2 linked regions of the Homo sapiens genome follow. The protein of the gene in region 2 interacts with the protein of the main gene of each other region in a pairwise test. Each region holds a gene or a part of one and is shown on either strand. Other genes may lie near its edges.

Region 1 (5,066 bases), on a different chromosome or scaffold from region 2:
TAGACATATCAGTGCCAAGTAAGATGTGAAACAGATCACCACGTATAAAATTTATATAAGAAACATCCAAAAACCAATTTCAGCCAGGCATGATGGCTTACACCTGTAATCCCAGCCCTTTCGGAGGCCAAGGCAGAAACACTGCTTGAGCCCAGGAGTTCAAGACCAGCCTGAGCTTATAATAGTGAGACCCTATCTCTACAAAAAATTAGCCAGACATGGTGGCATGCACCTGTGGCCCAGCTACATGGGAGGATGAGGCAGGAGGATCACTTGAGACCAGAAGGTCAAGGCTGCAGTGAGCCATGTTCACACCATTGTCTGGGCAAGAAAGTGAGACCCCATCTCAAAAATAAGAAAATTTTTTTAAAATTCTAATTTCATTGTCTTGAGCCCTTGACCGTCTTCAAGAATATAAAGGAATTAAGCCTGGGTGCAGTGGCTCACTTTGGGAGGCCAGGGCAGGTGGATCGTTTGAGGTCAGGAGTTTGAGACCAGCCTGGCCAACATGGTGAAACCCCATCTCTACTAAAAATACAAAAATTAGCTGGGCGTGGTGGCGTGCATCTGTAATCCCAGCTACTCGGGAGGCTGAGGCATGAGAATCGCTTGAACCCCTGAGGTAGAGGTGGCAGTGAGCCAAGATCACGCCACTGCACTCCAGCTTGGGCAACAGAGTGAGACTCTATCTCAAAAAAATAAATAAATAAAAATAAAAGAATTAAGAAAGCACAGCTAAGGGAAATGAGAGGTCTGTGTGAGGAGGGTCTGTCTGGAGAGCTGCTGGGTGCCCACTGTGACTCCCTCCTCCAGGCATGCCTCAAAGCGCAGGGAGCAACAGGATAAAGGGGTTGAGGGGCAGGGGTGGGGGTAGGGGGGGCAACAGGAAAGCCTCTGAAGAACCACTAAGGTATCCATGAGAGTGAGAGTCCACTGTAAATGTCTACCAAGCCCAAAGCCATTTGATAAGGGTGCTGGTCACTAAAAACCTTCTGCCTCTCAACTTTCTCTCTTCTCTCTCTATGCCACAACCTGACAAAAATCAACAACAGCTACGTAACGGAGGGTGAGGAAAGTGAAAAAGGGAGAAGAGACCACATCTTCCCAGCTCTATCTAGTTGGAGCTGGGAAAACAGGGAACAGGGGAGAAGCTCTACAACTAAATGAAGATTTAAATAATGATTAACATTCTAATTTTCAACTGAGATTATGTTTTGTGACTTAAAGCAGGAATTGGTAAACTTTTTCTGTGAAGGGCCAGAGAGTAAATATTTTAGGCCCTATTGTGACTATCCAACTCTGCTGTTGTAGTGAGAAAACAGTAGACAGTAGGTCCACAGATGGGCAGCATTGTGTCCCCATACACTCTACTGACGAAAACGGTCCAGTTGTAGTTTGTGAACACCTGACTTAAAGTGACCATAGGACTTTCAATAACCTGAGAGTGGCCAACTAAGTCATGAGATGACCAATTTTTTATTCAGGGAACAGGGAAACCCTCTCAACCAAAGGAATATCTTTTAAAATTTATTTCAGTGAGATAGAATTGATATAAAACAAAATGTACCCATTTTAAAGATACTGTTCAGTGAGTTTTGATGAACATATACAGCCATGTAATCACAACAACTAATTTTGAACATTTCCATCATGCCAAAAAGTCCTCCCATGCCCTTTTGCAGTAAATATACCCCAACCTCTGACCCAAGATAGCCACTGATCTGATTTATGTCATTATAAATTAGTTTTGCCTTTTCTAGAATTGTTTTTTTCTAAATGGAATTTTATACATATAATCATTTGTGCCTGGCTTCTTTTGCTTAGTATGTCTTAGTGATTCATCCATATTGTTGCATGTATCAATACTGTTCTCTTTTATTACTGAATAGTATTTGGTAGAATTATTCCAAAATTCATTTATCAATTCCTCTGTTGATGGAATTCTAGGTTATTAGTTTTTTATTATTATGAATAAAGTGATGAAAATTCATGTGCAAGCTTTGAGAATGATGGCATTAATAAAATCATGGCTTCAAAATAACTATGTCAAAGGAAAACTTTTTTTTTTTTCTTTTTTTGAGACACAGTCTCACTCTGGCACCCAGGCTGAAGTGCAGTAGCGCGATCATGGCTCACTGCAGCCTTGAGCCCTGGGGATCAGGTGATTCTCCCACTTCAGCCTCCCGAGTAGCTGGGACTACAGGTGCTAACCACCACACCTGGCTAATCTTTTGTGTTTTTTGTAGAGATGGGGTTTTGCCATGTTGCCCAGGCTAATCTCAAACTCCTAGGCTCAAGTGATCCTCCCACCTTGGCCTCCCCACAGTGCTGGAATTACGGGCATGAGCCACCATGCCTGGCCTCAAAGGAAAACTTTTAAAACCATTTTCTAGGCACAGAGACATACTAATAATACTAATGTATTTCATACACCCATACAACATGAAAATCACAAAGAATTAGAAGAGGCTAAATTTCAAACTATACTTACTTCTTTCTTAAGTTCATTAAGACTGTGACTGATTTTCAAAATACTGAGTTCCAGTTCTTCAGCGATGCTTTTTGTTTTCTTGCTTTGCTAAAAATTTTAAAAAGTATACATGTAATGTTACCGCATCTCTTTAATCTGTTAATTACAATTTTGTTTGGACTGTAAATTGTAATAAATTTTAATACTATTCTGTGAACTATAAAAGTAGATTTTCAAAATTTACCTGTTTAAGTTACAGTGGAAAATAAAATTTCAGTTTAGTTATATTTTTCAATGCTAACTACAAATAGATGAACTTCTGTTTTTTTATTTATTTATTTTTCTGTGAACCTATGGATTATATTGAAAGGTGAACTTTTAAAATCTAATTTTCTTTAATAAACTCAAGTCTAAAATTAATCTCTTTTATTTTCTGCCTAGAATGTCCATGCTTTCACTCCTAACCTAGTTAAAAATTAAAATCCTACTCATCTTTAAGATCTTACATAAATGTCTTTTTCTCAGAAAGGCTTTCTCAGATCACTCAATCTAAATCAGACCCTCTTCTTACTCACTGTAATCTTTTTGCTCCATAATCGTCCCAGTTTGCAATTACATATTTATTTTTTCAGTCCAAACCATCTGGAATTTTTTATTTTTTGTTTGTTTAAAGTCTATCTTCCCCACTAGGCCACGAAAGCTGGGTTCACATCTATTTTGCACACCACTAAATCCACAGTACCTGGCATAGCAAATGGTAGGTCGTAGATATTCAATTCTTTGCATGATAAATAAAAATTAAATATCACTACTTCATGAAGACTTCTTGAGCCCCCTCCCTAAATATAAATTTGTCCTCCTTCAAACCCTCTCAATGCATAGTCTACACTTTCTCTTAGGATACTTACAAAGCTATTTGTACTTGTCTCACCCCTTCCCGCAAATTTCTATATTGTAAAATTCTTGCAGACAAAGATTTTAGCTTATTCATCTTTAGATTTATGGTGCTTGGCATATAAAAGGCACCAGTAACAACTGCTGAAAAAAATGAATGAATGAAAAATACACCTAGAATGCAGGATCAGAGATCTGAGTGCTTGTGAAATATGCACGGGTAAATTTGCTAAATTTGTGACATTTGCTAATTGCAAATTTGAGTATTGATAGAATCACATTCCCAACAGAGTATTTCATCACAAGCAACTCTTTATAGTGAGTGTTGGACTTAAAACTGAACACTGAAGCAATCTACACTTCAGATTGTGTATCACACAGATAATTCAAACTAAACACAAAACATTGCTCAAGTCTCTCACACGACTATACTCTAGGGCAAGATTCCCTGTTAATAAGAACATGTGCACTACTGTGATGCCAAGAAAACATCAGAGAAATCTGTGATTCATATCTACTTTCATTCATAAATTAATCTACTTACAAGGAAATCAACTGCTCCTTCTTTCTTCAGTCTCAGCCATATCCACCCTCCTTCATCATCTTTACTGCCAAAGCTTTGTTCATGACTTCCAGATTTGTACTATCACTGCTGTATATTGTAAGCCATGTTAAATACTTTTCTGACAGAGCCTGGGCCTAAGAAATAAATAATGCTAGAGACATGTCCCAGGGCTCTCTGTCTCTCCACTTTGCAATCCACCTGCTATAAGAGATTGTGTACACACACTTCCTGTCTGTCCCACTTCTGTCAGTCTTGGCCATTCTTGCCCAAATAAGCTCCTCTGTTTGAAGCACACCAACAGCCCATTTAAGGCTCACAGAGTGGCCACCCACCAATTTTAGACCAGGAATTTGTGCAAGGGTGAAAAGCTTTTACTTGCCAGCTGGATCTACCCTTGTTTTCATTGAATCTACACCCCAATAAGTTTTCTAAATCATTGTCTCTGTAAATCAGCTGTCCTCAGAGGTAAGAATTGTGTACATGTGAATGGCTCCAGCAGTCAGGCTCAGGTCCCAAGAACCTCTAGGAGGGGGTCTACTCCTCTGTTCTTCACTCTGAAGAAGTATTTTGGGGAGGAATTTTCCAGAGGTGAGTTTGGTGGAAGAGTAGGGACAACAGTGTGAACTAGTGATAGTGACAGAGGCATATAATTGAGACTGGCTAGAATGAGAGTCAACAGGCCTGGAAATAAATGTCAAGTATTGTAAGTGCTAGATGGGAAGGATATTTTGGCCAACTAGGAGGGAAAGAAGGGATGAGATATCCTGTCCCATTCTGGAACAAATTCATACTCCTGGTGATTATGTAACTTCCATATCTTGCAAAACTTTATGGGAAAGCCATTATATAAGATTTACTTTGATTTTAAAAAAAGTTCTTACAGCTTGAATCCACACAGAAATTAACTGCTGCAGTTCCATTCTCGCCTGAGTTGACAGTTCCAAGATGCGTTCTCTGTGCTCATGGCTGGTGTAGGCAGAATCAGTAAAGTCCTCCATACGCTCCAAGATGACTTCCAATGTCACAGAAAGGTTCTCTTTGGACTGAAAATAAAGATTCTCCCGAAGAGCTTCAATATTCATCTGAGAACAAAAAGGACATCTATCCATCCATGTGAGTCAATATTCCCACCTGACC
Region 2 (5,843 bases):
TCCAGTAATTTATAAAGAGAAAAGCCTAACTGGGTTAAGTGTGATTTTAATAATAATGAGTCTTAAGAATTGGTTTCTTCGATCCATCCAAAAATGTCCTTAAAAGCTCTAAATTCTTATCACTTCTCCCTACCCCACCCTTCAGGTAAGAACTTAGAGCTTTCAAGGAAGTTTTTGTCCTTAGTGTCCATAGTGTATCCATTGGACCAGTATTGCGAGCAATACATGGCCCAAACTTTCAATTTTGGTAAAGTGCCATTGGTCACAGAATACTTAAATTGTTTCAGGGAAATTTAGATGTTTAAATTCAACTTCACAAGAACGTTAACACTGAGTGATCCAACAGTTATTATGGTTGACCAAAGACCCATTGCTCAATGTTAACAATTGGGAGAAATGGGTGTGGTAGTAAAATTCCAGTTCTCTGAGCTGGATGGATATTCACCAGAAAAGGCATTTATTTCTCCATAACGCAGCAAAAGCAGGATCTCATTGTTTAACTGTCTACTTCAATTGGAGATTACAGGGAACAGACTGATAGCAATTTAACTATACTAAGGCCCAGGTTATGAGATCTCGAAAATGAAGTTATCTTGTTATCTATCTGACATTCTTTACTTACAAACTTTAGTACTATACCAATGGACTATCACATAAAAGTGATGGCATCCTTCATGATTTGATAAAAGTCATGATACCAACACATAATTTATTTAACGTCTCTCTAGTGATGAAGTTACATCTGTTCATCAATACATTCTAATTATATTGTGTGATGGAGGGAATACATTTATAAGACAGCTGAGATAATAGAAGTGTAAAATCTGGCTGCAGAAGAAAAACCCTGAGAATGTCTGAAACTATTACTCAAGCTTCATTAGTTCTATAACCAAAGCAACCCAGCACAAACTTTAAATTTTTCTGGCTACAGAATAAAAAACTTTTTAAAGAAAAAAGTTCTAGAAATTCTGAGAGAAAAAAGTTTCCTTTTCGTTGACAAGCCTTAATACATAATCAATTGTGAGAGAAATGCTATTTGAAATGTAGGGATAGGAGCCTTGGTTTCTAGTTGTAATTTTGCTGTGCATGTGTAACATGCGTGACACTGTTGAGAATTTGGTAGTTATTTTAGCTCAAACTTCCTTCAGTGCCAGATGTCTATAAATAAATTTAAGATCCTAGAAGACCTACCTACTATGATCACTCTAGCTGGAAGTGATCTGTTATCTTTTTCTCTTTTTGGACAAAAAGGGTATGATCCAATCTAAACTTCTATAAAACTCGTCTGAACCACTCAAAAACAATGACCATAGGTTACCTTAAGTTGTCTCCTTAGCTCCCCTTTAGAATCGACATTTCTGGAAGAATGTCTACATATCATTCTAATACAAATTATTACCCCTATATTGTCCCTAATACATTGTCTTGCACTTTTTTGATACCAATACATTTTACTGGATTAATACATCTTACTGAATTAATTGGGCGGTACTTGGCAGCAATGTGGTTCCTGCCTGCCTGTGTTCTCCAACTTCCAATTCCGTTTACTGGATCTGGCAATCAGCCAGGAACAGGCAAAAGTGTTATTTCAGCTGTCTTAACTCTAATACATAAATTACTGCATCAGCAACATCCATACTTAAGAGTTCAGAGAGTGAGAATCTAGGGCCTTGTGGCCTAGCTAGCATTTCCAGTGGCTATCCTTGGCTACACCTCTGTCCTTTCAATATCCCTGGTATACCTACGTTACAGAAAATCTGTGTTAACACCAATGTACTAGGGTGTGGTGTTATATACCTCTAGTCTCAGCTACTTGGGAGGCTGAGGCAGGAGGACTGCTTGAGCATGGGAGTTCAAGGCTCCACCTGGTCAACATACTGAGACCCTCAACTCTAAAATAAATAAATTTTAAAAAATAACACCAATATATAGATCCCAATACTGCTCTAATGGATATTAAGTGCTATCAATAAGTACTTCTTGACACATCACTGGATGAATGAAAACAAACAATGATTACATTGAGAGTGACAATGAGTTGGTTTCAAAGCTATATTGAGTACTATTCACTCAGGCATACTCAATACATTTTTGTGAGCTCATGGCTTTCCTACTTGTGATTCTCAAAAGAATCCTATTGGAACCCCCCCACCCCCCAATCACAGTAAAACCTCAGATTAGGTCTTGGCAAACTCATTTTCTTGACAAATACAACTTAGAGGTTATATCTGGTCCCTCATTTGGATTATACTATATAAATTCTTCAGTGATTACTGTCGTTTGGTATTTGGTTAATTAAATCTACTGAGTGAGGTCAAACTTGCATTTGTCTTGTGTCAAGTTCCATTCTATGGCAGACTAATTTAACAGAGATTCCAAGGTTCTCTGCCTCCAAGCTGAATAAGCTACTAGAACAAAAAACAACTAGAAGCCACCTTATTCCCAATTCATTAACGTTGACTTCATGGTCCACACCAGAAAATGAACGCAACTCAATTCTCGAAGACACTATTCTAGAATTTTATACACTTAGGAATTCAGATCACAGGCTCAAAAGTTTTAGCAGGAGACCCACGGAGCTTGGGCCTTGATGCAAAAGCAGCTTTTGAAACTGCAAGCCACTCTACGCTTAATCGCGGCAGCTATAGGGAATTAAGTTTATTTCTGACCGCAGCATGCTAAAAATCAGTAGGATATGGGGCTAGAAGCAACAAAAAACGTAACAAAAATTAATTCCCCAATAAAGCTTTAAAAACTATTTTCCGTCGCTAACTGAAGTACGTAGCCAAATATGGAAGCTCTAAACATTCAGCTTTTCTTTAAAATCATAGATATCACCTAGTGTCGTCACTCGTTCTCTCCCCCCTTGTTTCTGCACCCTTTAGGTGAGTGAACACGACCTTGGCAGATGCACCCTACTGTCGGGATGTGGCCTTGGGGCGGAGCTGGCAGATACAAGCAGGATGGTGAGTGGAGGCGGCAAGGAACTCTTACAATAACACTATCCAAATGCCCTCCGACCTTCCGGAGGCAAAAAATGACCCTCTGGTGCCAGAGACTCGGTGAGTGGCGTGACCTAGAGATGGAGGACCAGGACGCAGCAAACCAGGCACAGAACAGTACCCAACGGGACAGAGTTCCACCGGACCAGCCCCCTTCCCAGAGCGCGCGGTAAGACGGGCGGCGGCCTCCATCCCAGGCTGCACACAGAGGGTCCCGGGATCTCCAGCAGCATCAGGCCTGGGACCCGGGCGCCAGCAGAGACAGCGGCACCGAGTGAGGCAGTCCCCTGCCGCGCCAAGAACAAGACCGGGGACAGAAAGAAAGCGAATAAAGATGAGGCAGTGGTGAAGGGGCTGGGCATCACCGTACTTACCTTTCCTCGTAGCCCCCACAGCACAGGATGCCGTGGCCGCCGCTCACCCACCGGCTCAGCTCACGCGCGCAAGCACCGCCCAACCGGAAGCGGGTCCGCACCCCGCCCTCATCCGCCTCGCCGGCGGCCTCCCGACCAATCATCAGCAAACCCGCCGCTGTCGCATAGCGTCCCCGAGTAGCCATTGGTCTAACAATCGCATAGCCGGGATTGGCTGGAAAGCGCCACGTCCCCGGGACCGCGCCGAGTTGCGTGGAGCGGATTCCCGCCCAACTCTCGTCCCCGGGATTGTTGGGACGGCGGGCTCCAGCCCCAGCCCCAGCCCCAGCCCCGTACTGCGGGTGGCGTGGGCGCGGCCGTGTGGCCGCCACGTCCCCATTCACAGCTCATGACTCTGCTTCCACAGGGCTTCTTAGACTATCCTGCTAGTTATCTTCATTCCCACAAGACCACCAGGGCGGAATTAATCCGACTGAATCAGTCACCAACTTTATTGAACAATCCCAACTTTTTCTTTCCCTTCAGCGCTGCGCCCTGCGCTATCTACAGGAGGCTCTTCAGTCTTTGGCACCAGTGTATCTTTTAGCTCCATCTCCCAACACTCCCCCTCATCTTGCGCTCTGGGCACCATCATCTGTTTCCTAACAACCGGTCCTTTTTCATCTCTTAAGATTTTTGATCAAGAGGCTTCCTCTGCCAGGAATAAGTGCGTTTTCCTGATTTTCTGCCTTGCCAATAGAAGTCCCAGTTCAGATGTTAGCTCTAGAAGCCTTCCCTGACCTCACTAAGCATAATTCTTACCTTATTTACCATCATAGCTGTTTATAGCTTCAGTACACTTTGCCAAATTCTGCTATAAAATGTAGCTTATCCATCTGTCCTCTTCTAGAGTAAGCTCCTGGGTAGGTATCTGTCTATTCATCTTTATATCTGCAACTCTGAGCTTACTGCCCAGCTCAGTAATGTTAAGTGAAGGGAATGGGCCGAACCCGTTGCATGTCCCTGAAAATTTAATTTCATGTCATGAAATTAAAACAAATATCAAATAAAGGCTACTATAGCTTCAACACAAATGGAATGTAAACCTGTGGCATTCTTAGCACATAAAGCCTCTGTAGTTTAAAATCAAATTGAGACAAGTTGTAAACTCATGAAACAGTTAAGCTCATGAAAGCAAGCTAGTTACTGTCAACGTGAAAGGTTTACAACTAATCCTTCTGGCATTCAAAGGAGTGTCAGTGACCCTTGGTGGTAGTCAGGGAAGGCTTCAGAGGAAGATATGACTAAGGCTGGACTAAGGAAGTCCCAAATGGACTATTCAGCAAGAAGAGTAATAGGAATAAGGACAAGTGGAGGGCAGAGTGGGAGGTAAATTCTCAGGCCAGGTAGCAAATGAGGAAGGTTAAAAAAAGGGGTGGGGGGAAACAATGAAAGAAAAGCATGGATAGTAAGTTTGGAGAGGTAATGGAAGATCTTGTCAATTTGAGGAACCTGAACTGAAGACAGTGGGAACTGTGGGTCTTCCTGGGAAAGTTTCTAAGCTTGTGCCTACAGGGAAGCCATCTAATGGGTATTAACAATAAAACAGGCTACCTCAGGAGGCATTATTTCGAAAACAGTTTTTAAAATACCTCCTTAAGGATCACTTGAGGCCAGGAGTTTGAGACCAGCCTGGGCAAAATAACGAGACCCTTCCTCCCCCTATCTCTACAAAAAAACAAAAACTAAAAATTAGCTGGGTGTGGTGGCACACACATGTAGTTCAAGCTAGTTGCTTGAGCCCAGGAGGTTGAGGCTGCAATGAACTATGACTGTACCACTTCACTCCAGCCTGGGCAACAGAGCAAGACCCTTTCTCTTAAAAAATAAAAATAACAACTCCTTAAGGTCAGGCACTGTGTTATGTGCTGGTGAACCCAAAGTAAACAGGACATCGTCCCTGTCCTCAAGGAACTCAGCTTAATGGTGCGCCATCCATCCTGGAATTGTCCTAGTAAAGGCTAAACAGGTAGTGAGGGTGCCAGAGATAGGGCCCTCCAACCCTGAGGTTCCCTAATGGAGAAGGGCCTGGCCTAGCAAGGGAAAGGGAAATGGAAATGAACCTTTATATACAAGAGTTTTTTTGTTTGTTTGTTTTGTTTTGTTTTTCTTTTTTTTTGAGATGGAGTTTTGCTTTTGTCGCCCAGGCTGTAGTGCAATGGTGCGACCTTGGCTCACTGCACCTCCGCCTCCTAGGTTCAAGTGATTCTCCTGCCTCAGCCTCCCAAGTAACTGGGATTACAGGCATGTGCCACCACGCCTGGCTAATTTTTGTATTTTTAGTAGAGACAAGGTTTCACCATGTTGGTCAGGCCAATGTCGAACTCCTGACCTCTAGTGATCCGCCTGCCTCGGCCTCCCAAAGTGCTGGGATTACAGGCATGAGCCACGGTGCCCAGCCACAAGAGAGATTTTAAAAGTGGAAATA

The links.
Region 1: the proteins of CALU (region 2) and CTNNAL1 interact in a two-hybrid assay, tested with the Homo sapiens proteins (one large-scale study listed by BioGRID and IntAct).

The regions. Positions count from the first base shown.
Region 1 is NC_000009.12:108,974,471-108,979,536, forward strand, and holds part of CTNNAL1 (alpha-catulin), read right to left. Parts: intron 5,012-5,066; coding exon 4,811-5,011; intron 2,579-4,810; coding exon 2,492-2,578; intron 1-2,491. UniProt on the Homo sapiens protein: May modulate the Rho pathway signaling by providing a scaffold for the Lbc Rho guanine nucleotide exchange factor (ARHGEF1).
Region 2 is NC_000007.14:128,736,966-128,742,808, reverse strand, and holds the start of CALU (calumenin isoform a precursor), read right to left. Parts: upstream 3,451-5,843; 5' UTR 3,377-3,450; intron 1-3,376. UniProt on the Homo sapiens protein: Involved in regulation of vitamin K-dependent carboxylation of multiple N-terminal glutamate residues. Seems to inhibit gamma-carboxylase GGCX. Binds 7 calcium ions with a low affinity.